7 linked regions of the Homo sapiens genome follow. The protein of the gene in region 5 purifies or fractionates together with the protein of the main gene of each other region. This does not show direct contact. Each region holds a gene or a part of one and is shown on either strand. Other genes may lie near its edges.

Region 1 (3,500 bases), on a different chromosome or scaffold from region 5:
GGGTTGTGACTGGTAAGTATTATGTGCAAATTCATGTAACAAAGAGTTTTGTTATAATCAAGCCTTTTCTCTCAGAATGGGAAAAAACACTAACATGAACTGGATTTGTGCTTAAATTATACCCATAAGTAAACAAAAACAAATTTAAAAGGTTATTTCTCTACCCCAAATAAAAGTTTAGGTATATACCTTTAGAATTTTCCTGGCCACTTTGTGTTGGTACTGGACATGTGACACAAGGAGTTAGATATGGGTCCACACAAAGTGAGCTACAGAGGTTTTTAATAATTTTTGAATTGGGACAGGGCGTCCTTGTTGTGCACTGCTGAAGGAGTTTAGCTATGCACTGAGCTGCATAGTTTTGCACTAGTGTATTCTCTTCTTTTTTAATTGTCTCCATTAATGGTTTTATGATAGGATTTAATTTCTCCGGAAGCTGCTGCAAGCTCACAACTGCACAGGCAGCAAAAGTATGCACTCTCAACTGCAACACTTGCCACTCCTGGTTGGTCTCTGTAACTGTCATTTGGACCTGCTGTCGTTTACTATCTAACTGTTGTAACACTTGAGGATTTAAATCGAAAGATGATGTGGCTTCATTAAAAACAGTAGTGACCTATTAAAAAAAAAAGAAATTAAAAATCATTAATCATATCAACCCCAAATAGACTGTAAGCTCCTAAAGGGTAGACAGCAAGCTTTCTGTTTCAATTTTGGTTTCCACAATATGTAATATTGTTTTAGTACTCAGTAAACTAATGTCTAAAACTTCCCAACTAAATTTTATTTTAATCTGACTAAAATTTAACATTAGCATTATATTCTTTAAGAAAGACATTCTCTTGAGAAGAATAAAATTATCTAACCTTTAAATATGTCTAAATGACTTTGAGGAAAATCACATTTAACACCCGCAGAATACTCTGGTGAAACAAGAAAGCTACAGGCAAATATAAACTAACTGTTCATGAAGGAATTCCAAAACTCACAAACTTCTTTTTGGGAAAAATATTCTTTTCAACTCTAAAACTCGTGAAAACTTAAGAGTGGCTGTTTACTAAGTGGCTAAGTGTTGCTAACTGAATCATTCTCTTTCTTTCTTTAACCTCCCTTCTGGTGGAAATGCCCAGGCAATGGAAGAAGGAAAAGAAACAAAACAAAACAAAACAGAACAGAACAAAATGGTGCAGTTATCATTCACTTAATTACCAAGAGCTATCTAAGGCTACAGGACTGTTGTACCAGACTACTTTGCAAGCCCCATTGAAAGACTGTTCAGTCAGTCTTTTTTTTAACAACTTTATTCAGATATAATTTGCATACCATAAAAACTACCCATTTGAAATGTACAATGTATAAGATTTATTTGAAACAGGGTTACAATGCTAAAAGTTTAAAAACATTGTCCTAAATCCACTATGCTCATGTCACTTTTCAATGACTGTAGACAACTGAGGAAAAGCCTCAGTTACCCCCAAATTAATTCAATCATTCAACCAATATTTATTAAAAGATAAATAAGATATAATGTCTTAATATGCTCAAAAAATGCAGAGACTAATGTGGGAGAGATATAAATAATTAAGAAAATGTAACATATAACTGAGGTAAGTGCAAGTTGCTGTGGGAATACAGAGCACTCCTTATTCCTTCTTAGAAGAAGAGATTAGTGGGAGACTTGTCAGAGGAGGATAACACTTATGCTTGGTTTTTAAAGAACAGGCCAATCAGGGATTATAGGGACATCTTGGCAAACAAAGTGAGGTAGGGAGTGGAAAACAGGACACTGTCTGTGGAATTGAAGTTTATCATAGCTTGAGCACAACACACAGAAAAAGAGATGAACTCTGGATAAGCACAGAGGGTTAGGGATGGGGAATTCCTGGCAAAGGAAATAGAAGCTCGGGCCCAGAAGTGAGAATGAGCAGAAGTGAATAAGTGTAGCGTACTTGCGCAAGAAGAAAGCTAACTGGGCGTGAGTGGAGAAAGTTTGAGAAATAATGAGGAGATAAGAGATAGAGCATTTAGAAGAAAGTGATGAAAAGAAGAAAGATAAAAATGAAAAAGCAAGGAAAAGGAAAATAATGTTTTTAAGCAGGAGAGGGATGTTCAGGGTGGCACAAAAAGAGCATTGCTAGTCTAGCACAACATGCAGAATGAAATGGACCAGAGGCTGCCTGGAGCCCTAGAGATGAGTCAGGACCTAGATATAAAGTACTAAGATCTGACTGGGCTCTGATAATGGAAATAGAGAAGAGATTAAACATGAGACTTTCTTTTTTTTTTTGAGACCAAGTCTCACTCTGTCACCCAGGCTGGAGCGCAGTGGCGTGATCTTGGTTCACTGCAAGCTCCGCCTCCTGGGTTCACGCCATTCTCCTGCTTCAGCCTCCCGAGTAGCTGGGACTACAGGCACCCACCACCACGCCCGGCTAATTTTTTGTATTTTTAACAGAGATGGGGTTTCACCATGTTAGCCAGGATGGTCTTGATCTCCTGACCTCATGATCCACCCACCTCGGCCTCCCAAAGTGCTGGGATTACAGGCGTGAGCCACTGCGCCCGGCCTAAACACATGAGACTTTCTGAAAGAAAATGCTGACAAGATTTGTGACTGGAATAAAAAGAGTATCTTTGTCAAAAAAAAAAAAAAAAAAGCCAGTTTTTGTTGTGTTCAGTGTGAAGTGACAGTGAGATATTTAAGTAAAAATGCCTAAAAGAAGAACGTAAGAAAGACTGAGAGTAGACAGCACACAGTACCTGGGTAGGAACTAAATCATGAGAATGGTGCAAGAGACAAAGATCGCAGGGAAATGTCTATATTTGGCAGGTAACAGGAAAACAGGGATTCAATGAAGATACAAAAGGCAGTGGCTCCTTTGAAAACTGCCCTTCCCTCAAAAGTCCCTTACAGAAAAAAAAAAGAAAAAAAGTCTCTCCCAGAGATTCTGATATTTATGCTTATCTTCTAGCCCAAGTCAAAACAACTGAAGAGTAAAAGATCTGAATAAGCAAATCTTAAAGAAGGGGCCATTTGATGAGCTTAAAAAAGGAAAGTTCCCAGAAATAGTAGGCAGGGAACCTAGACTATAAAGAAAATTTGAGATTTAATTCCAGACAGGCAAAAAAGTAGGGAGAGGAGGCAAAAAGGAAAACTTACAGAATAACAACACTCGGGAAAATAACTTTATAAAAGAAGAGAACCCAGGGGGAAAAAAAACAGCAATTTTAGCTTTCTCTCCACAGGTGAGAACAAAAAAATTCAACTATATTATTTTTCAACTAGAAATGGGGATAAGAAATGAAGATTACTATTTTCATGGGGACCAACACAAATGAAGTGACTCAATTTCTGATCCTATAACTCAAAAAAGGAAGAACTCATATATACTACACCTAATCTCATGCACTTACTAAGTACAAAGCTGCTGTAATGAAGCATGGATGCTGGCATAAGGAAAGACAAATACATTGAACAAATGGCCCAGATACACAGCATA
Region 2 (3,500 bases), on a different chromosome or scaffold from region 5:
CAGATCATTCTCTGACAGCACCTCAGCACCCTGTAGAGGGTAAGGCAGGGGGTTTCTTCCTGGGCACCCAAGGACTCAGAAACCAGCCTGGGGCTCCAGCCAGCCTCTTCTCCTCTCCCCACTACTGATGGGAAACTAGATGGGAATGAAGGGCTCAAACCTGAAATCCACAGAGTTCAGTTGGAAGGTCATCATGAATGAGAATCAGCAGCCGCTGAACAAGGGGAGGATCTCCTGAGTCCTAAGGGCAGAAAAGAATAACCCTAAACTGGGCAATCGGGTGTCCTGGACTGGCCACTGGTGAAGAGTTAGGATCCAGGGGAACTGCCTGTTTGAGGGGTGGTTACCTGAAGTTGGCTCAAGGCAGGAATGAGTGCTGGAGGCAGTGGAGGTGCCTGACGAAGGTCCAGCAGGACGGACAGCCCCAGTGTCTGTAGATCAGGCCTGCGGGAGCAGGAAGAGCCAAGGAGGCTGCTGTGTGTGTGTTTTGGGGGATAGCAGATAAGGCAAGGCAGACATACGGGGTCTGTTTTTAGTTAATAGTCCTGAGGAGAAATTAGTTGCCGGTACATTTGGGAAGAAATGGGCAAAGGGCCAAATTCTGGGGTGTGTGTACAAGAGGAAGTCACCTAGCAGTCAGGGGTCTATATTCATATGGCTACTAGGTCAAGGGATTAAGGTCTGGAAAATTAAGAATTCTGTTCTGAAATGGCGTGCATTCAATATCAGCCTGTAGTATGGTGCCTAATAGGTACTCAGTGCTCAATAAATGTTTGTTGAATCAGTGAACCAATGTCCTGATGATCTTGGTAGGGTTGGAAGAGAGTGAAAGTCAACAGTGTTGCTTTTGAAGATCAGTGAAGATATGAAGCTGGAGGTCAGGGTAAGTAAGGCCAAAGGTCAATGGCTTGAAGTCTGAAGGTTGAAGAAGTAGGTGTCCTTAGAGGTCAGAAGGTCAGTGTCCTGAGAAGAAGGAGGTGAGGGTCCTCATGAATCAGGAGGTTAGTGTCCAGGGTGCCAGGACTGGGCCTCGGTTACCTGAGCAGTGAGTGGAGGTAATGAAGAGTTGTGTTCAGCGTGTCTCGGGAGGGTGGGGGCTCCTCAGGAGGGCACGGTGGGGTAATGGTCAGCAGAGCTCGCCCACTCTGGTCCACCCCTCCTGAAGACACAAAATGGCCAGGCTGTCCTGGCTGGGAGCAGTCCATGCCTACCTCCTTTCCACCCTGCCTCCCCCAGTCCCCAAGCCCACCCAATTGCTTCTCTTTCCCAGTCCTGTTTCCCTTCACCCACTGATGCCCACTGACCCGTCAGGATGAGGAATCCAGATGCCATCAAGTCCCAAGCTACATCAGGGTGATCAGAGACGGAGACTGCAAGGGCCTCTTCTGGAATGTTGTCCCCTTTTCCTTCCTGCACAGTCTCCAGCGGAGGTGTTGGAGTGTCAGACAGGGGGCCTTCTGGGCCTGTGTGTCCTGCACAGACACAGACAGAAACATGGGACTGAAGTTAAGATGGTTCTGGTTGTTCTGCTCCCAGCCTAACCCTGCTCCTCCTCCTGCCCCCTCCCATAGGCCCGACCTGCTTTGGCCCTTGCCCCATGAGCCTCACTCCGTGTCATCTCACCTGCCATACACAGCAGGCCTGGCCCCTCCAGCTCTCTCTCTCCGGCCCCCTCTTCTGTAGGCCCACAGGCTTCAGAGAGCTGAGGCTCTTTCTCGCCTGCTGTTTTGAGCTCTTTTGGCTCAGATTCTGGCTTCCCTGAGCCTTCATATTCCTCCTTAACCAGGTGGCATTCTGGAAGCTTGTGCTCACTTGGTGAGGGCAGATTGCCAAGGGCTTCTTGGTGGCTGGCATCTTCCTTGTCCCCAGGGCTCAGTGGGGCACTGTCCCCTCCTCGGCTAAGAGCCCCTCGACCTGCAGCTCGCTTCTTTCTTCTGTTTCCTTTGCCTGTTCTCCGAGGGGTACCAGGTGGTCCTTCAGCCCCCTGGCCTCCTCCTCCTCCTCCTCTAAGCTCCCCTGGCCTCAGGGGGCAAGATCCGGAGGCTTCTCCCACAGCCTCTGCTGGGGGCTCAGACACCTCCAAGACTGCTGCCTCTGGGACAGCCTCAGCTCCTGGGGGAGACTCAGGGGAGGCTCCGGTGCTGCTCCCCTCGCCGGGTGGGCGTGCTCCATCCTGGCCCCGAGGCCCCAGGCCCTTCTGGTGCATCCACGCCCGGTGTCTCCGGTGGCGGCCCTTCCCTCCAGCGCCCTTGCGGGTGGGTACCGTCCGGACTCTGGAGAGGCCTGGGGAGCCTTCAGCATCTGTTGGGCTCCCCCTCACGGGCAGCGTCACCTCTAACAGCTCCACATACTCGCCCTCAGGTCCTTCCACAGGGGCATTGTGCCCATCCCCAGGACTCCGGGTACCCAGCGCCTCCTCAGGAAGTGGAGGGCTGGGAAGCCCTGGAGGTCCAGAGGGCAGTTCTGGGGGCAGTGTACTTGGCTGATGTCCAACCATGAGGCCCTCTTTGTGCACAAATCGTGGACAGATGAGCTCAGCCCAGGGCAGCCGCTGAATCCCAGAGGGCGCAGACAGTAGGCAGGTACTGAGGCGACCTGTTGGCCGGTCCTTGTTGATGCCTTGTAGCCACTCAGGTGTGAATAGGTAGGCACAAGCCTCATTGGGCACAGGAACCTCCTGCACCCGCCCACCCCCAGGGGCCAGACACTTGAGTGCTAGTCGGGGTGCTTGGGCAGCTGAGGGCACCACCTGCAGATAGAAGTCTCCTGGGCGCAGCAGTTGCCAGGGTAGGGCTGCTAGCTGCACCACCACCTGTTCATGCAGGCAGAGCGGCCACCCCTCATGGAAGAAGAGGAATCCACTGTATTGGGCCTGGGGAGAGAGGTGGGAGGCTGCACTCAGGCCTCTGCTGAAGAAACCAGCAGGAGAGGGCAGTTAGAATGGGCCCACCCTAGGCAGGACCAGCCTTATGCCTGGAAGGTTATACTCTCAGGAGAGCAGGAGGGGAGATTTGGGGTATTCAGGTGGCAGAGAGGAAGGGATTGGGACTGATCGGTCTCCCAGTAGTAGGAAGATTCTTCAGGAAGCTAGTTCCATGTGTGGGAGGGTAAGAACTGAATCGTTACCAAGACATGGTCAGCAGATGCCATTGTCTTGGAGAAGCTAAAGACTCTTAGGAGTCTTTATATCTGTAGAAATGAATGATCTCTGTTGACTAATGTACGGGGGAGTTAGTGTCTTGAGAAATTCATATGAGGGGGAGAAGATGTCTGGAATTGGGTCTGGAGAGTTAGGGTCTTTGGGGGTCAGTATTGGGGTCAAGATGAATTTGGGGAAGATGAATGTGTGTGTGTGTGTGTGTGTTAGCATCTGAATGGTCAGTGCCTGTGAAGGTCAAAGTTTGTGAGAGGTCAGAGAATGAAGCTTAAGTGATTCTGGAGAGATCGGTTTCAAGGGAGGCTGTATCTCTAGGTTAGTGGGGGCATTAGTCAGCCTGGCT
Region 3 (2,790 bases), on a different chromosome or scaffold from region 5:
TGCCTGGGTTTGTTTTTTGTTTTTTCCAGAGACGGGGTGGAAGGTGTCTCCATATGTTGCCCAAGCTGGTCTCAAAACTCTTGGGCTCAAGTGATCATCCTGCCTCAGCCTCCCGAGTAGCTAGGACTACAGGTGGGTGCCACTATGCACTTTTATTTTGTAGAGACAGAGGTGGAAAGTGTCTCCATATGTTGCCCAAGCTGGTCTCAAATTCCTGGGCTCAAGCATTTCTCCCACCTCAGCCTCCCAAAGTGCTGATTACAGGAGTGAGCCACGACACCTGGCCCTTGTGCTCACTTTTAAGCAACCCTGCCAACAATAGAGCCTTCTCCAGGACTATGCTAGTAAGACACTTGTTCAGTGTCGTTTTGTAGGACAGAGAAAGCTAACTCAAACCACATTGCCACTATCCCGTCAGAAGTCTTATTCACTTTGCCAAGCCAAACTATTTCACAGAACCTCCCATATTAAAAACACAGAGAAAGAAAACACAGATAACATGGTGTTGTGATCTTTATTCCATTAAATGATCTTACAAATTGGAGTAAAACAGAAACATGCTTTTAATATACTAATAGCATAATCTCATCCCATTGCACTTTTTAAAAACTATATTAAGTTTCAAAGCCACTCAAAGGCAAGGGTCTAGCAGACAGTACTTTTAACAAATCATTTTTTAAAATAAAAAAACCTGAGGAAAATTTGTGTATGTACAAGATTAGTATTAACTCCTTTAAGGCTTACATCCATGACAGCATGTATCTAATTAGAAAGCTATGGGAATCAATGCTACCTTCCCTTGCTCATAAAAACATTTAAACTGTAGTTCTGGCACACGAAATTTGCCCCAAAGAAAAATGTCTTTCAAAGCCCTTCTGTCCCTAGATCTGTTTTGCAAAGTTTCTGATATGGGGTACTTAGGTCACTAATGACAGGAATTAGGATCTTGTCTTCTTTCTTGTTCATTATTTTTATTTGTGGCTTAATGTTTCACCTGTATGTGAAAGATTTGGGGGTTCAAGTCACAGTGCTGAATTTTACTTTTTAAAAGAAAAACTATCAAAAATTGCTTTTAAAAAATCCTAATTACATTAGAAAATAGGATACCTGTACATTCATTTTTCAGAGAAGGCACTATGACAATGGAGAAAAACAGCTTTAAAGAGCTTAGATAATCCTCTGAATTAAAGGCATTCTTACTACTTCTGAACACAGAAAACGCCTGGGGATTGTACTGGCAAGAGACCACCTATTCTAAACCTCAGGTACAAAGTGTCCACTTGCCTCCAGACAATACTGAATTGTACTTTCTCCTTGGTACTTCCCATTCGATGAAGCAGTCTCTCTCTGTGGTCTCTGAACCACTATTTATAAAAGTGATGACTCCAGGACCACAGCCCATACCACCTGAGGCAATCCCTGGGTACAAAGCTAGGAATCTGAACTTTTTAAACAAGCCTGCTAGGTAAGTCTTATGCACTCCAAGGTAGATGAGAACCACTACCCTAAACATAGCTACAACAGGACTTACAGCAAGAAAAACCATTTGACTGCAAATATTATTTTACAATGGGCTTCTTAATGTCATTTTTAAAAATTAATCACACAAATAGTTTGTACTTTCATAACTGAAGCTTGTCTTCATTATGCCCTTATCCCTTGACTAGAATTTTGTTAAATAAAACATATGTAAGCCAGAATGACACAGCCATGTTGACAACTTGAGATGGAAGATCAAATCATCCTAAATTACATTTCAATAGTTCCAGGAAAGAAAAAAGTCCTGTGAAGACTTCCATGTAAGTTACATCATTTTTTAAAAGAACCTAGCAAAAAATTAAAAACTGTTTTATTAAAGTTTTAATTTTTAAAAAATTAAAAAATTAAAACTGTTTTATTGCTTTTGCATGGACTTGATTCAATCTACTTAATTTTGCTATAACTCATACATACATACATACTTATCCAAACTCACCCTATCCAAGGCACCATTTTACAAGCCAAGTAGAACACTGTGTGTGATCCACTAATGAAACCAACCACCAGTACAAGGCAGTATTTTTGTGTGTTTGACCAAAGCGCTTTACTTCATGTAAGAGAAAAAATAAAGCAAAACAAGGCCAGGTTCCAGTGGCTCACGCCTGTAATCCCAGCACCCTGGAAGGCCAAGACAGGCGGATTCCCAGAGGAGTTGAGACCAGCCTGGTCAACATGGCGAAGCCCTGTCTCTACTAAAAATACAAAAATAAGCCGGGTGTGGTGGCACATGCCTGTAATCCCTGCTACTTGGGAGGCTGAGGCAAAAGAATCACTTGAACCCAGGAGGCGGAGGTTGTAGTGAGCCAAGATTGCGCCACTGCACTTCAGCCTGGGTGACAGTACAAGAGTCCGTCTCAAAAAAAAAAAGGAATAAAGCGAAACACAGGCAATTTTACCAAGTATAAAAGAGGTGTTAAAACGTAAACTTCCATAGAACATTTCTTGGTATACTACGAAAATAAGGCATGACTCAGCTGGGCGGGGTGGCTCATGCCTGTAATCCCAGCACTTTGGGAGGCTGGGGGGAGTGGATCACCTGAGGTCAGGAGTTTGAGACCAGCCTGGCCAACATGGCAAAACCCCACCTCTAGTAAAAAAACAAAAATTAGCCAGGCGTGGTGGTGTACACCTGTAGTCCCAGCTACTCAGGAAGCTGAGACAGGAGAATCGCTTGAACCTGGGAGGTGGAGGTTGCAGTGAGCGAGATTGCACCACTGCACTCCAACCTGGGCGACAGAGCGAGACCTCTGT
Region 4 (3,500 bases), on a different chromosome or scaffold from region 5:
CTGGCCTCAAGTGATCCACCCGCCTCAGCCTCCCAAAGTCCTGGGATTACAGGCGTGAGTCACCGTGCCCAGTCACTTAAGACCATTTTGACTCCATTTCCTGCAAGTTCTATTTGATGCATGTAGTAAGAGGTCTAGAGAATCAGGAAGTTACTCCAATAAATAACGCAGATGTCTGTTTGTGCTCTTCCCTAACAATGTATGCAAAATCTTGTACAAGCAATGGCATGCATGAACAATGACTCATTTCTCCAGCACAATTTAATAAAGTACTGTATGTACCATGTGGTGTTGATATGAAAAATTGATATTCTGTAAGCCTGAAATAGTATTTTCATGGTCTTGTCAAATTATTGGGTATTTATCAGAATTCCACTTAGCTAGATTATCTAGTTCCAGAAAAGTATCTTTCAAAGTTAAACTAAAAGGTCCTCTTGATGAGAACATTCTCAGTGTATTCTTTTCATGGAAATGCCTACCTCACTGCACTCAAGGGGGACAGGAGGGGACTATGAATGAGCCACGTCCTGCTCACACTTAATGGCTGAGAGGGGAGATTACCTGTCGCTCAAGACGACTCCCTCGGCTTCAGGGGGAGCGATTGAGAGCTGGAATGGAGTGTTGAAGTAATGCTGCTGCTCATCTGATCGGTGCACGACTTCACCACCCCTGACAACCAGGAAGCCTGAATCGCCCAGGTTTGCTGTGTGTAAGCGGTGGCTGGTTCTGTCCAGCACCACAATGCAGGCGGTGCTGCTACCTAGAAACAAAAATCATCTCCATTTATTTTTTCTTCCTAGGCTGCCTTTGCACACACATTTTAACACATGACCCCACAGAGCAACACACCATAATTTCAATCTCCTTTGCCTAAACAGGACCTTTCTTAGTTATGCTCCACATCCTCTACGAATATCAATAAAATCCTGATCAGGGTTAACACGGTGGGGAAAGAAAAAGGATTTGTATTATACATAGTAATTGGGCCACAGATGATCTGAATTCTTCCATTTGCATTGACAGAAAGCAATAAAAATGACTGGTATTTAATCACACTATTTCATTTCAACAGTGCTGTCATCTATGCCAAATGCTCAAAAACATGTTGTTGAGATATTAAGTTTTAATACTTCAATGCCAGAATGAAAATGTTACATTTTCCCGACATTTCTTATTAGTCATTGGCCACAAAATTCACTCACATTTAAGACAGGGCACATAACTACAATTTTAAACCAGATTTCCATCTGTTGAGGTCAGGAAGAACTTTTATTGGAGACTAATGACTCACTCACTATGAGGTAACAAGACCAAATTTCTGCAGGCAGCTTGTGGAATCAACCTGTTCATTCGACAGAGACTCTGGGCAAAGAACTCTGCATAGCTTTGCTGTGCACGGGCCACAGAATCTTCCCTAGACTGAAAGGCTAATGGCACAACTAGCAGAGACCACTCTCAAGTACTAACAGTTAAACCTACCTACCGCCACCAGAAAAATGGCAACATAGAAAAACAGGCAGTTCACAAAGAAATAAGTGTAGATGATCTGTAAATATATGAAAAAATGACCACCTCACTAGTAACGCTTTTCACCTATTAGTTTAACACGAGTCAAAAGAAGATAATGCATATTGTTGGCAAAGTGTAGGGAACATGCCCACTGCACAGAACATTCATTCTGCGGGAGTGAAAAGTAAAAGTAAACAACTTTCCTGGAGCGCAAGATAGCCCGGAAAAATGTACCTCCTTTCATCTAGCAATTCCATCTCTGAGAATTTACGCTAAGAAAATAATTAGAAGGGCAAACAAGACTTAAGTACAAAAATATTACTTAAGATGAGAAAGAACTGGAAACAATCTAAACATCTAAAATAAGGGACTGGTTAAATAAATTACAGTACATCCATACAGTGCAAAGATACACCATCACGTAATACTCAGGAGTACAGGCTCTGGAGTCAGCCTGCTTCCTGCCTGTGTCTGAATCCCAGCTCTGCCACTTCCCAGCTCTGTGATGGGGCAAACTACTTAACCTCTCTGTGCCCCAGTTTCCTCATCCACAAAAACAGGGATAACAGTAAGTACCTCATAGAATTTTTCTAAGAATTAAAATTAGTTAAGTCATGTCAAACCCTTATAACAGATAGTGTTGGCTATTTTATAGCCATTAAGATTATGTAAAATATATTTGAAAGGAAAGATAACTATAAAATAAGTAGATTACAAACTCATATGAAAGTTTCCTTAACAACAACAAAAAAAGATGATGTCAAAACCTAAAGAACTGTACACCAAAAAGAGTAAAGTTTACTAGAAGTCAATTTTTTTAAAAAAGCAATAGGCAAAGTCTAAATTATTAAAATGATGGTTAAAAGGAAAACAACACAAATGGGCCACGGAACCAGCCATATTAAATCCCAGTGTGCCATCATTTTCCAGCTATGTGACCATGGCAAGTCACTTATTCTCTCCAGACTTGTTTCTTCCTAACAAAATGGAGAATAGTTCAGGCGTGGTGGGTCATGCCTGTAATCCCAGCACTTTGAGAGGCTGAGGCGGGTGGATCACTTGAGGCCAGGAGTTCGAGACTAAGCCTGGCCAACATGGTGAAATCCCCTCTCTACTAAAAACACAAAAAATTAGCTGGACGTGGTGGTGCACACCTGTAATCCCAGCTACTTCGGAGGCTGGGGCACAAGAATTGTTTGAACCCGGGGGGCAGAGGTTTCAGTGAGCTGAGATTGCACCACTGCACTCTAGCATGGGCAACAGTGCAAGACTCTGTCTCAAAAAAAAAAAAAAGGTGGAGGGGAATAAAATTAAGTACCTATGTATTTACCTCATGGGGCTGTTGTGGGCACATAGTAGACTCAATTCAAGTTACCATTATTCTATGCACACATACACACAGAAAAAAAATCTGAAAGCATAATCACTCAAATATTAATAGTTGTTTTAGTGGGATCATGGGTAATTTTTATTATTAATTTTGTCCTAACAAAGTAATTTAAAAACACTTAAAAATATACATGTCTTTCTCATGCTAATGCCCAGAAATTCCATTTCCTTGTTATCTACAGTATATGCGTTAGTACTAACTCATACTATGCTAGCCATTAAGTGTCAACGAAAAGCAAAGCACGGGTACTGTAACTCACTGGTAGTGCTGTCAGATAACCCGCTCCATAGCTTACAGTAGGACAAAGATTGCCCATTACCTTTCCTTCCTAACTCAGTGCACATCAACTCTAACCTTTTATCATTAATAGATCACCACCCAAAACATCTTCTGAAAACTCATGGGATTATATTCTGAGAAAGAAAAACAACCCGAGTAGCACATCCTTGAAAATTCTGCTGCAAGAAGGACTCATGTGACTCCTTATATACTCACTGACGAAGCCAGGCTATCCTTTGCTACCCTGCGACAGTAACTCGCTGAGTTGGAATCAAAACAGTCCTGGTGAGTGACTGAGCTTCAGTATCCAAAGCAGCACCAA
Region 5 (3,958 bases):
AATTCAAACTCTGCACAAAATATTTGTATAAAACCAGAAATACTCTGCGATGGAATTCTTAGGAGTAGCAACCGCATTTAGAATTTACCCATTACAGTGCTTCCATCTGTAAAGTAGAATCATCCCCTAGCTCCAAACGTACACTATTGTTACATCTCATCCTTTTCTAAACAGAGGTAGCCTAAAACAAAGCAAACTTCTAAATAGTATTACAACTCTCCTGAAATGATTTTTCTATAATCTAAAAAAACAAAATAAGTACAATGATTAGATAATTTAAGATACATTGAGATCACCTTAATATTAAGGAGAGTTGATTTTCACACTCCTCCAGAAATCTGTCTTCCTGGAATGAAATGAATATTTTATTCCATTTTATTGGTTTATCGTAAAGGAAAACAGAAGCATTAACATTATTTTATGCCTTTCACAGTTGATAACGATTATACAAAAAACCTTTTATTCAAAATCCAAGCAAATTAGGAAGTTCAAATACCCAGAAGTTTTTATAACTGATATTAATTAAATATAGACACATCCAGCCCCATCACGAGCTCTGTGAGAGCAAGTCACAGTCCATTTCTGAGTCTCAGTTTCTCTTCTCCTTTAATCTTCAGTCTTGACTGACAGAAAAGCAACCTTCAATGAGTGCCATGCTGGTGGCCTTACTGGCTGTTCTTTTCCATCATTTATTTTCACCTGCTTACATTGGCCACTGTAAAACATTTTTTATTTCCTCAAAGTCTGCAAGCAAGGAGGGTCATTAATTTTTATTAGACTTAATGAAATGATTGCTAGATTTATTTGAATATTAGAAATAAATAGTATTAATTAATACCGGAAGCTAAGAATCACAGAGAAAGATGCCACTAATATCCTAAAGTCTTCCAAATTCCCTTATTTTCCTCATCCTCTGTCCTTGTGCTCATTTCAGCAGGCATATCACCTCTAATTGTTTAGGTCTCAACCCTCAACCCTTCCCACCTGTTTCCTGGTCACTTCACCCCTCAGAATATGAGGTTATCGGCATATTTCAGGACATAACCATGTAGAATCATTAGATCATTTACCCGTTACATTGTTCTGATAACTGATTATTTATCCGCTTAAAGTAAAGGTGGATTCCCAGTGGTAGGTAACCTTTTATTGGGCTCCCAATTTTCAGTACTAATATTCGCAAACACATTACAGGTTTTGTTCTTCCCCCAACAAGAAGGCCAAGGGCAGACTATATGTGATGACCATATACACAGACAAAAGGTAGCTACACAATTAGGCGCTGAACAAACCACAGCAAGGGCAACAATTCTCACTGCATTTTCCCAAAAGGCAATTGAATAGATCAAGCTTTAGCTAAGCTTGGCCTGAATGTTTCTGTGAGGCATCTTCCTGGTTCTCCCTTTAACTTGCAGAGAGCACACATTCTGAAAGACTGGCCTGATTGTTCCAATAAGGCTTTCATTCCCATCTCTGATTGGCAGGAGAGACTTTAGAATGTAGATGCCATCAAGTTTATCAGGTGAACTCATCCTTCTTGGCAAGAGTGCAACTTTTCATCTGTGACAAGGCAAAAGGTTTTATAATCTATGTTGATGGGATATGATGTTGGGAATTTTGTTCTGAAAAATAAACGTGTTGCAAAGCCATTGGGTAATCTGGATCTCAGGTTATTATTATTGTCTTTATGTTAGTCAAGATAAAGAAAGATGGTATAATTTTGTAAGGTAGCAAAGTGAATAACCCCACCAAGCTCTGAAATATTCTAACCTTTGAATTTGTCTGGTCTTTTCCACACTGAAATAATGATAAATTACATTGCTGAATTTCCTTTTAAAAGGTAACTGAAATACTGTATTTAGCAACTCAATAAGACCTTTTTACTGAAAATATTTAAAATTTACAAGAAGAGAGTTTAAAGATGACACATTGATGCATTTGTATGGCAAACAGCAATTAATTTCACATATAATTGCAAATTCAGTTTATGACAGAGTTTTTCATTCAAACATGATTCTTCCTTTATGGGCAAGTTCATGAATTATTCAATATAGCAAATGTCACATTCTCCATAAATCAATTAAGCATCAAAGACATGTCATGTATAGTTTTACTAGAAGAAACCTCATCATAATACAAGCCACGTTAGCGCACAATAAACTGTAAACCAAAGAAATACAAAGCTAGTCGACATACTTTCTAAATTGTTCTACACTGTGATTTTAAATTAGCTCTTTAGAACAACTGTGTTTACATGAAACAGCAGCCTGAAAATCCTGTATGTCTTCCACGGAAACAATATTATTGCCAAAACAATGGAAATTCTCGTTTTTTACCATTCATCACGAAGATCCTTGTTCAGTACTTCAGAGTTGAAGTCTAACTTCTTTCCTTACACTCTCAAAGCATCAGTGTTTCCACTGTAGTTTGTTATGCTATCCCCCACCCCCAAACGCCAAAATCAAATCTTTTTAAAAGAGAAACTTACCCCAAGAAAGAGTGTGCTAGATGAGAGAATGTGCTGATGCCTGTAGATAATTAGCTAATAAACATGTAAATGGGCAACTCGCCCTTTGGAAGTGCATATTTTTATCCATTTTTTTTTTTTTTTTTTTTTTTTTTTTTTTACAGGGAAAGGTTAGCCCAGCCTAAAGTAGCAGACTCTGGGCTGCCGCAGCTTTTTACTGCAAACCGCTCATTCTGTAAATGTGAGCTTATTTACATTTATCTCTTTCCCTTTGTTAACGACTCCCTCTCTTGAATGCTGTAGCCCGCATGCCTTTAGCAAACAGGACACAAAAAGGCCTGAAGTCCGAGCTGGAGCCGACGGCCAGGGGAACTCTTGGGGGTCTCAATAGGAAATGCTTTTCATTGGCTAAGGAGGCATTATTAGGAGTCTAGATCCCGCCCAATTCCCTGTGCTCCATCGTTCCCTTAGTCACCAGTCACTGGACTGAATAAGTTTTTCCTTAAAGAGCATTGCCCAGGAAAAGCAGTTTCACAGTCAAGAATTAATGGCTTAAGTGCCACTTGACAATATAAAAAGTGTCTTTCCTGACCAATTAATCCACAGAGAAAGCCTGTGTGCCTGTCTTTGCCGCAGGACTGCAGAGGAGGAGACAACATTTCAAACAAGGAGGAGTGTTTCAATTATGCATACCATGTTCGCTCCTACTTGTTTAAAATAATTACAACAATATTGATAATAATAAGTAGGGGGCAAGGAAAAGGCAAAAATGAAAGGTACCATAAAAATATTCCTATCACACTGTGCAAAATTCAATCTCCCACCATCACAAAAATATAAAGTAAATTTTAATACTACACTCACTTAAGCCAGATAAGTGCCCTCAGATAGAGATGTACTAGGGTCCCAGAGCTCTGACACCCACCTTCCAAGGACTAGGGAGTGTTCTGTAGCAAAAGGAGGGTCTACACTTCTCAAGTAACTGCCTCGCAGTAAGTCTAATTACCATGAAAATTTCAGAGATTTGCTAAAATACAAAATAAATAGCACAGATGCAATCTATTTACAATAGAGAGTTATCTGCAACTGTATACCTCCGCCCACCTCCCCCATGGCAAGATTTTCTTTTCTAATTATCTACAGGTTTACTGCCTTGGTCACTCACAATTCTTTTTTTTTTTCCTCCCTATATTTTCCTCTTCACCTCCCTCTCCTTGATCTGATTTTGTGGCAGAAACCCACTCATCCATCTGTAACTTCATTGTTGGCCCTTCCCCTCTGCCAGCCCACCCCTGCAAGCCTTCTCTACTCTATCTCCACCCACTGCAAAAGCCACCAACAGCAGCCCCTCCCCCTCCTCTGGAATGAAATTCTCTGCCCAGGGATAAGGTGCTTTCTTTCTCTTGGCAGAGCAGAGCCCCTGGAGTCTTGGAGGATCCTCTATTTGCTTCAGAACTTCAGTTTGTGTAATTAAGCTGCCTCCCAAGTAGGGCA
Region 6 (3,500 bases), on a different chromosome or scaffold from region 5:
TTGATAATAGGTCACAACATTTTATTTCTCTTCAAAGCAAGGATACGTTATGTGTATTATGCAGCTTGAACAAATCACTTGTAAAATAGGTGGTCTTTTGTGTTTTATAATTACTGTATTAATTAAATTACATGTATGATTGTATTTTATAGTGAATCAAGCATTTCTTTTAAATTTTTCTTTATTTCAAAATAACTCAGAAGTACAATGATCTTGCTAAAATATCTATAAACTTATGTTTTTTTTTTTTTGAGACAGAGTCTCGCTCTGTTGCCCAGGCGGGAGCGTAGTGGTGTGATCTCAGCTCACTGCAAGCTCCGCCTCCTGGGTTCAAGTGATTGTCCTGCCTCAACCTCCCAAGTAGCTGGGACTACAGGCACCTGCCACCACACCTAGCTAATTTTTGTATTTTTAGTAGAGACAGGGTTTCACCATATTGGCCAGGCTGGTCTCAAACTCCTGACCTCGTGATCTGCCCACCTTGGCCTCCCAAAGTGCTGGGATTACAGGTGTGAGCCACTGTGCCCAGCCTGTTTTATAAATATAATTTGTAATGATTTAAATGGGGTAGATTATTCTGGATTAGTACTATATGATGAATCATGGCAAGGATAATTAACATGTATTTGAAATCCATATATATTTTTTTCTTTTGGGATAGGGTTTGGCTCTGTTACCCAGGGTGGAGTACAGTGGTACAACCAGGGCTCACTGCAGCCTCAGACTTCCAGGCTCAAGCCATCGTCCTATCTCAGCCTCCCAAGTTTCTGGGACCACAGGTGGATGCCACCACGCCCAGCTAATTTTTATATTTTTAGTAGAGATGGGATTTCGCCATGTTGCCAGGTTGGTCTTGAACTCCTGGGCTCAAGGAATCCTCCTACCTTGGCCTCCCAAGAAATCCAAATTTTTTTTAAAAAACTTTCTATTATAGAATATTTTTAACATTTACAAAAGGAGAAAGAGTAGTACAACGAATTCCCATGTACCCATCCTCCAGCTTCAACAATTGTCAACACATAGCCAGTCTTGTTTTATCTATATCCCCTCCCACTCTCAGTATACTTCAGTATATTTTAAATAATATCATTTCATCTTTAAATACCTCAGTATGTTTCTCTAAGGACTTTTTAAAAATATAGAACCAGCTGGGCGTGGTGGCACACGCTTGTAGTTTCAGCTACTCAGAAGGCTGAGGTGGCACAGCAAAGGATACAATCAACAAAGTGAAGCGAGAGTACACAGAAGGGTAGAAAATATTGGCAAACTACCCATCTGACAAGGGATTAATAACCAGAATATATAAGGAGCTCAAACAACTCTAATTAGGAAAAAGTCTAATAATCCAATCAAAAAATGGGCAAAAGATTTGAGTAGAGATTTCTCAAAAGACCCGTGCAAATGGCAAACAGGCATATGAAAAGGTGCAACATCAGAAAAATGCAAATCAAAACTACAATGAGACATCATCTCACCACAGTTAAAATGGCTTATATCCAAAAGACATGCCATAACAAATGCTGGCAAGGATGTGGAGAAAAGGGAACCCTGCACACTGTTTTTGGGAATGTAAATTAGTATAAGCTCTATGGAGAACAGTTTGGAGGTTCCCCCAAAAACTAAAAATTGAGCTAGCATGTGATCCAGTAATCCCACTGCCTGGGTATATACCCAAAAGACAGGAAATCAATATATTGAAGAGATATCTGTACTCTTACGTTTATTGCAGCACTGTATACAATAGCTAAGATTTGAAAGCAACATAAGTGTCCATCAACAGATGAATGGATAAAGAAAATGTGGTGGCTGGGCGCGGTGGCTCACGCCTGTAATCCCAGCACTTTGGGAGGACAAGGCGGGCGGATCATGAGGTCAGGAGATCGAGACCATCCTGGCTAACAAGGTGAAACTCCGTCTCTACTAAAAATACAAAAAGTTAGCCGGGCGTGGTGGCGGGCGCCTATAGTCCCAGCTACTCCTGAGGCTGAAGCAGGAGAATGGCGTGAACTCGGGAGGCGGAGCTTACAGTGAGCCGAGATCGCGCCACTGCACTCCAGCCTGGGTGACAGAGCGAGACTCCCTCTCAAAAAAAAAAAAAAAAAAAAAAAAAAAAAAAGCCTGGTGTGGTGGCTCACGCCTGTAATCCCAGCACTTTCGGAGGCCGAGGCGGGCTGATTACCTGAGGTCAGGAGTTCGAGACCAGCCTCAACATGGAGAAACCCTGTCTCTACTAAAAATACAAAATTAGCTGGGCATGGTGGTGCATGCCTGTAATCCCAGCTACTCGGGAGGCTGAGGCAGGAGAATTGTTTGAACCTGGGAGGCGGAGGTTGCAGTGAACCGAGATCGCGCCATTGCACTCCAGCCTGGGGCAACAAGAGCGAAACTGCGTCTCAAAAAAAAAAAAAAAAAAGAAAAATGTGGTATATATACACAATGGGGTAATATTCAGCCGTAAAAAAAATGATATCCTGTCATTTGCAACATGGGTGGAACTGGAGATTATTATGTTAAGTGAAATAAGCCAGGCACAGAAAGATAAACGTCGCATGCTTTCACTCATTTGTGGGAGCTAAAAATCAAAACAATTGAACTAATGGACGTAGAGAGCAGAACGATGGTTACCAGAGGCTGGGAAGGGTAACGGGCGATTGTGGGGGAGGTGGGGATGGTTAATGGGTAAAAAAAAATAAAATGAATAAGACCTACTATTTGACAGCACAACAGGGTGACTATAGTCAATAATAACTTAATTATACATTTTAAAGTAACTTAGAACGTAATTGGATTGTTTGTAACTCAAAGGATAAATGCCTGAGGGAATGGATACTCCATTTTTCATGATGTGTTTATTTTGCGTTGCATGCTTGTATCAAAATATCTCATGTACCCCATAAATATATGTACCTACTATGTACCCACAAAAAAAATTTTTTTTTTAATTTTAATAAAAATGCTGAGGTTGGAGGATCACTTGAGCCTAGATGTTCAAGTTCAGCCTGGGCAACACAGTGAGACACTGTGTCTTAAAAACATAATAAAATTGATAAATTTAAATTTTCGATATTACCTAGTACCTTGTCTGTGTTCAAATTTTGTTGATTGTCTTATAAAGGTCTTTTTATAGGCAGTTTATTTAAATCAGTTTCTGAGTAAGGTTCACAATTACTGTGTCTCTTAAATTTTTTTGTTTCTTTTTAAATAAACTTTACAGAAAAATAATGTATAAAAATTATACTAGTCATAAGCATACAGCATGATGAATTTTAATATACTGATCATTGCTATGTAACAGCACCAAGATAAGGAAACAACATCATTAGTTCTTTTCATGTTCTCTTCTAGTCCTCTCACCCAAAAAGGATCTTGACCTCTAACACCATAAATTGTTTCTATAGAAATGGAATCCTATAGTATGTACCCTTATAGTTTAGTTTGCTCAGTATGTTTTAAGGATTTATCCATTATGTTGTATGATTCCATAATTTTATTCTATTGTA
Region 7 (3,500 bases), on a different chromosome or scaffold from region 5:
TCCTCACTTCCTACTTCTCTCCCGTCGCTCCAGCCCCCTGGCTCCTTGCTCTTTCCCAAAGCCATCAGATGTTTTCCCAACTAGGAGCCTCCCTTTTAGTAAGGTTTTCCGTGAATACCCTATTTAAATGGCAACTCCCTCTTTATTCCAAGTACCTCCTATCTTCTTCACTATTTTATGTTTTCCCTTTCTTAGCTCTTATCACTCTCTTTGCTGTCATGTGTATTTTATTTATTTATCTTGATTACTGGCTGTCATCTCTCCAAGAATCTGTAAACTCTTGGATCTTTTTGCATGTTTTGCTCACCATGTTATCCCTAACACTTGGAACAGTACCTGGCACATAGTAGGTACTCACTAAATATTTGCTGAATTAATGAAGTAAGAGGGAGCACAGTGTAGCTGAGTAACTGAAAGAAGATCAGTGTGGCTGAAATTCAGAGAGCAAGGACCCCTCTCTCTCATGAGGGTCTCAGAGGGGGATGACCCTCTGTCTCATGAGGGTGGCATAGCACAAGGCTGTGGGGCAGGTAGGAGCCAGGCCATGTACGGCTGGACAGAACACACCAAGGACTTTTGTTTTTATCCTAATGGGATGCTATTCAGTGTTTTAACATGGCATGTCATGAAAAGATTGGGGTTTCCAAGGTGACACTACTTGGGAAAAAGAACTAGAGCAGACAAGGAAGGAGCAGTTAAGAGGGTGTTGCAGAAGTTCAGATAAAAAGAGAAGGCAGCTTATTCTGGAGAGCTGGCAACAGAGGTAGAAAGAAGTGAACAGGCTTGACATATATTTAGGAGGTAAAAATGAGCAGAGCTTGGGTGACGGACTAGGTAAGATGGCAAATTACAGAAATGTATCAAGGATGACTCTAGATTTCAGGTCAATGCAACTGGACAGGTGATGACATCAACTGATCATTTAGAAACACCAGAGGTGAGTGAGGTTGGGCAGTGAGGTAGAGGTGGGGAAGAACACACAGTCACTTTGAGCCTTGTTGAGCTGAGTGCCTGCAAGCCATTCAGGTGGAGATGTTCAGCAGGTAGCTAAGTTGCGGGGTGTGCGTTTCAGAGCACTGGTGTCGACTAGTGATATAAACACGGGCATCACATTCTCAGAAATGGAGCTGAAGCTGTGGGTATGTGTGTGTTCAACTCCAGAAGAGCTGGGAGTAAGAGATGAGGGCTCAAAGCTAACCCTTGAGAAACTCAAATATTTACAGCTGGGGACAGAATCTGGCACTAGCAAAGGAGACAGAATGGCTCAAGAACCAAGATGGAGCTGGTAGGGTGTGATCATAGAAGTCAAGGTAAAGCAGGTGCCCAGTTGTGTCCAGTGTCACCAGGAGGACCTCTGAGATGGGAATGAGAATGGTCTGCCAGCCGAATGGCTGTATGTTACTGTTCTTCAGTAACTGTGAGTTGGTGGGATGATGGAGGTGAAAGGCAGATGACAAAAAGATGAAGACAGAGTAGAAGGTGAGAACACAGATACAATTTCTACACTTTTTAAGAAGTTTGGCTGTGAAGTAATCACCTGTGGCTGGAAGAAAAAGCAGATGGGTAGATAGAGAGAAGGGTGCTGGTTGGATAGATGTTCCCTCTTCCCCTACTTGGCCTTCGTACCTCTAGTTTCTTTCCCCGCTCCTCCATTTTCCACATTCATTCTGTATAAGGCCCCTGATAGATATAAAATACTAAAAGTAGGGCTTGGTTGCTTCCAGCTCTCCTGTTCTGCAATTCTATTTCATCCCACCACAGCCTAGCTTGCAAGCCCCCAGGACTGCCAGTTTCTGAAGTTCTTTCTGCCTTTCCCCAAGCCAACCCTTCATCCAATTCATTCCTTTCTACTCCCTGGCCACGCCATTCCTCACTAACAAAAACAACCAACCAGATAACACTAAATAAAGAGAAGATACATACATATGCCTTATTAGTTATTCTGCAGCCATTAACACTGATTTTCAGAGAAGTGTCATGACAAAGTAGACAGAGTAGAAGAAGATGCTAAAGTTAAAAAACACATGACAATATGCCATATGCGGTATGACCTTTTGCAAAGGGAAAGACTCCAAAATGTCAACAGTGTTATCTCCGGATAGGGAGACTGAAGATTATTTTAATTTTTTCTTTATGTTGTTCCATTATTTGCAACATTCTAAAGTGAACATATATAACTCTTATAAATAGAAAAAGATGAATATTATTTAAAACTCAAACAAGTAGTTAAAGTATTGATTTACTTATTGAACATCTGCCTTCCACTATAGGTGCAGAAGCAACCAAAGAAGCATAAACGGCAGTCCCTGTGCTAAAGAGCTCACTACTCTGCTGACATGTATTGTTTTGATTGACGAGTATCCATTCCCCTGGCTTTTGAAGAAGCATCTTAATTTTACTTCCAGGAAGCCATTTTTCCCCAGCTCTGGATTTCAGTGGAACTTGTAGCCTAGGCCTAAACCAGTTATTCTACTTCATTCTTTGACTAGAGGACTGGTTCAAGGATACACTCATGAACCATCAGGACAAAGAGAACAAGGGAAACCAAGGATCAGGCAGGAGTGACTGGAGAAGTCCAGCTTTCTTGATATGGTCTAAATATGGTGATGATCACCTATCTCAAAATGATCTGAGTGAGGAATGATGCCTCTCTCCTTTGAGGGTCTCAGAGTCGGATGACCCTCTCTCCTATGGGGGTCTCAGTCTCAGTCTCTCATGAGTGTCTCAGTGGGGAGTGACCCTCTCTCTCCTGAGGGTCTAAGTAAGGGATGACCCCTCTCCCATGAGGGTCTCAGAGGAAAATGACCCCTCTCTCCCATGAGGGTCTCAGTGGGGAATGACTCCTCCCTCCCATAAGGGTCTCAGTCTCAGTGAGGGATGACCCCTCTCTCTCATGAGGGTCTCAGAGGGAGATGCCCCTCTCCCCCATGTGGGTCTCAGAGGGGGATGACCCCCTCTCTCCCATGAGGGTCTCAGTGGGGAATGACCCTCTCTCCCATGAGCGTCTAAGTGAGGATGACCCCTCTCTCCCATGATGGTCTAAGTAGGGGATGACCCCTTGCTCCTATGAGGGTCTCAGAGGGGGATGATCCCTGTCTCTCACAAGGGTCTCAGTGTCGGATGCCCCTCTCTCTTATGAGGGTCTAAATCAAGGATGATCTCTCTCCCATGAGGGTCTCAGAGGGGGATATCCCCTCTCTCCCATGAGGGTCTAAGTGGGGGATGACCCCTGTCTCGCACAATGGTCTCAGAGGGGGATGCCCTCTCTCTCTCATGAGGGTCTCAGACGGGGATGCCCCCTCTCTCTCATGAGGGTCTCAGAGGGGGATGACCTCTCTCTCCTAGGAGGGTCTCAGTGGGGGATGCTTCCTCTCTCCCATGAGGGTCTAAGTGAGGATGACCCCTCTCTCCCATGATGGTCTAAGTAGGGGATGGCCCCTTGCTCCTATGAGGGTCTAAGTGGGGGATGACCCCTCTCTCATGAGGGTCTACGTGAGAGG

The links.
Region 1: the proteins of LPAR4 (region 5) and BTAF1 purify together in Homo sapiens (affinity purification with mass spectrometry; 2 studies listed by BioGRID and IntAct, with this or other methods). This does not show direct contact.
Region 2: the proteins of LPAR4 (region 5) and ARHGEF40 purify together in Homo sapiens (affinity purification with mass spectrometry; 2 studies listed by BioGRID and IntAct, with this or other methods). This does not show direct contact.
Region 3: the proteins of LPAR4 (region 5) and ATL3 purify together in Homo sapiens (affinity purification with mass spectrometry; 2 studies listed by BioGRID and IntAct, with this or other methods). This does not show direct contact.
Region 4: the proteins of LPAR4 (region 5) and PPTC7 purify together in Homo sapiens (affinity purification with mass spectrometry; 2 studies listed by BioGRID and IntAct, with this or other methods). This does not show direct contact.
Region 6: the proteins of LPAR4 (region 5) and FASTKD1 purify together in Homo sapiens (affinity purification with mass spectrometry; 2 studies listed by BioGRID and IntAct, with this or other methods). This does not show direct contact.
Region 7: the proteins of LPAR4 (region 5) and ARFGEF3 purify together in Homo sapiens (affinity purification with mass spectrometry; 2 studies listed by BioGRID and IntAct, with this or other methods). This does not show direct contact.

Annotation. Positions count from the first base shown.
Region 1 is NC_000010.11:91,986,270-91,989,769, reverse strand, and holds part of BTAF1 (TATA-binding protein-associated factor 172), read right to left. Parts: intron 617-3,500; coding exon 190-616; intron 1-189. UniProt on the Homo sapiens protein: Regulates transcription in association with TATA binding protein (TBP). Removes TBP from the TATA box in an ATP-dependent manner.
Region 2 is NC_000014.9:21,073,304-21,076,803, reverse strand, and holds part of ARHGEF40 (rho guanine nucleotide exchange factor 40), read right to left. Parts: intron 2,873-3,500; coding exon 1,624-2,872; intron 1,473-1,623; coding exon 1,305-1,472; intron 1,182-1,304; exon of another isoform or gene 1,160-1,181; coding exon 1,039-1,159; intron 445-1,038; coding exon 348-444; intron 269-347; exon of another isoform or gene 242-268; coding exon 161-241; intron 31-160; coding exon 1-30. UniProt on the Homo sapiens protein: May act as a guanine nucleotide exchange factor (GEF).
Region 3 is NC_000011.10:63,623,587-63,626,376, forward strand, and holds the end of ATL3 (atlastin-3), read right to left. Parts: 3' UTR 501-2,790; downstream 1-500. UniProt on the Homo sapiens protein: Atlastin-3 (ATL3) is a membrane-anchored GTPase that mediates the GTP-dependent fusion of endoplasmic reticulum (ER) membranes, maintaining the continuous ER network. It facilitates the formation of three-way junctions where ER tubules intersect.
Region 4 is NC_000012.12:110,545,319-110,548,818, forward strand, and holds part of PPTC7 (protein phosphatase PTC7 homolog), read right to left. Parts: intron 761-3,500; coding exon 562-760; intron 1-561. UniProt on the Homo sapiens protein: Protein phosphatase that plays an essential role in mitochondrial metabolism and biogenesis. Positively regulates biosynthesis of the ubiquinone, coenzyme Q. Dephosphorylates the ubiquinone biosynthesis protein COQ7 which is likely to lead to its activation.
Region 5 is NC_000023.11:78,746,562-78,750,519, reverse strand, and holds the start of LPAR4 (lysophosphatidic acid receptor 4), read right to left. Parts: upstream 2,801-3,958; 5' UTR 2,486-2,800; exon of another isoform or gene 2,334-2,485; intron 1,620-2,333; exon of another isoform or gene 347-1,619; 5' UTR 297-346; exon of another isoform or gene 1-296. UniProt on the Homo sapiens protein: Receptor for lysophosphatidic acid (LPA), a mediator of diverse cellular activities. Transduces a signal by increasing the intracellular calcium ions and by stimulating adenylyl cyclase activity.
Region 6 is NC_000002.12:169,563,866-169,567,365, reverse strand, and holds part of FASTKD1 (FAST kinase domain-containing protein 1, mitochondrial), read left to right. Parts: intron 1-3,500. UniProt on the Homo sapiens protein: Involved in the down-regulation of mitochondrial MT-ND3 mRNA levels which leads to decreased respiratory complex I abundance and activity.
Region 7 is NC_000006.12:138,164,939-138,168,438, reverse strand, and holds part of ARFGEF3 (brefeldin A-inhibited guanine nucleotide-exchange protein 3), read right to left. Parts: intron 1-3,500. UniProt on the Homo sapiens protein: Participates in the regulation of systemic glucose homeostasis, where it negatively regulates insulin granule biogenesis in pancreatic islet beta cells. Also regulates glucagon granule production in pancreatic alpha cells.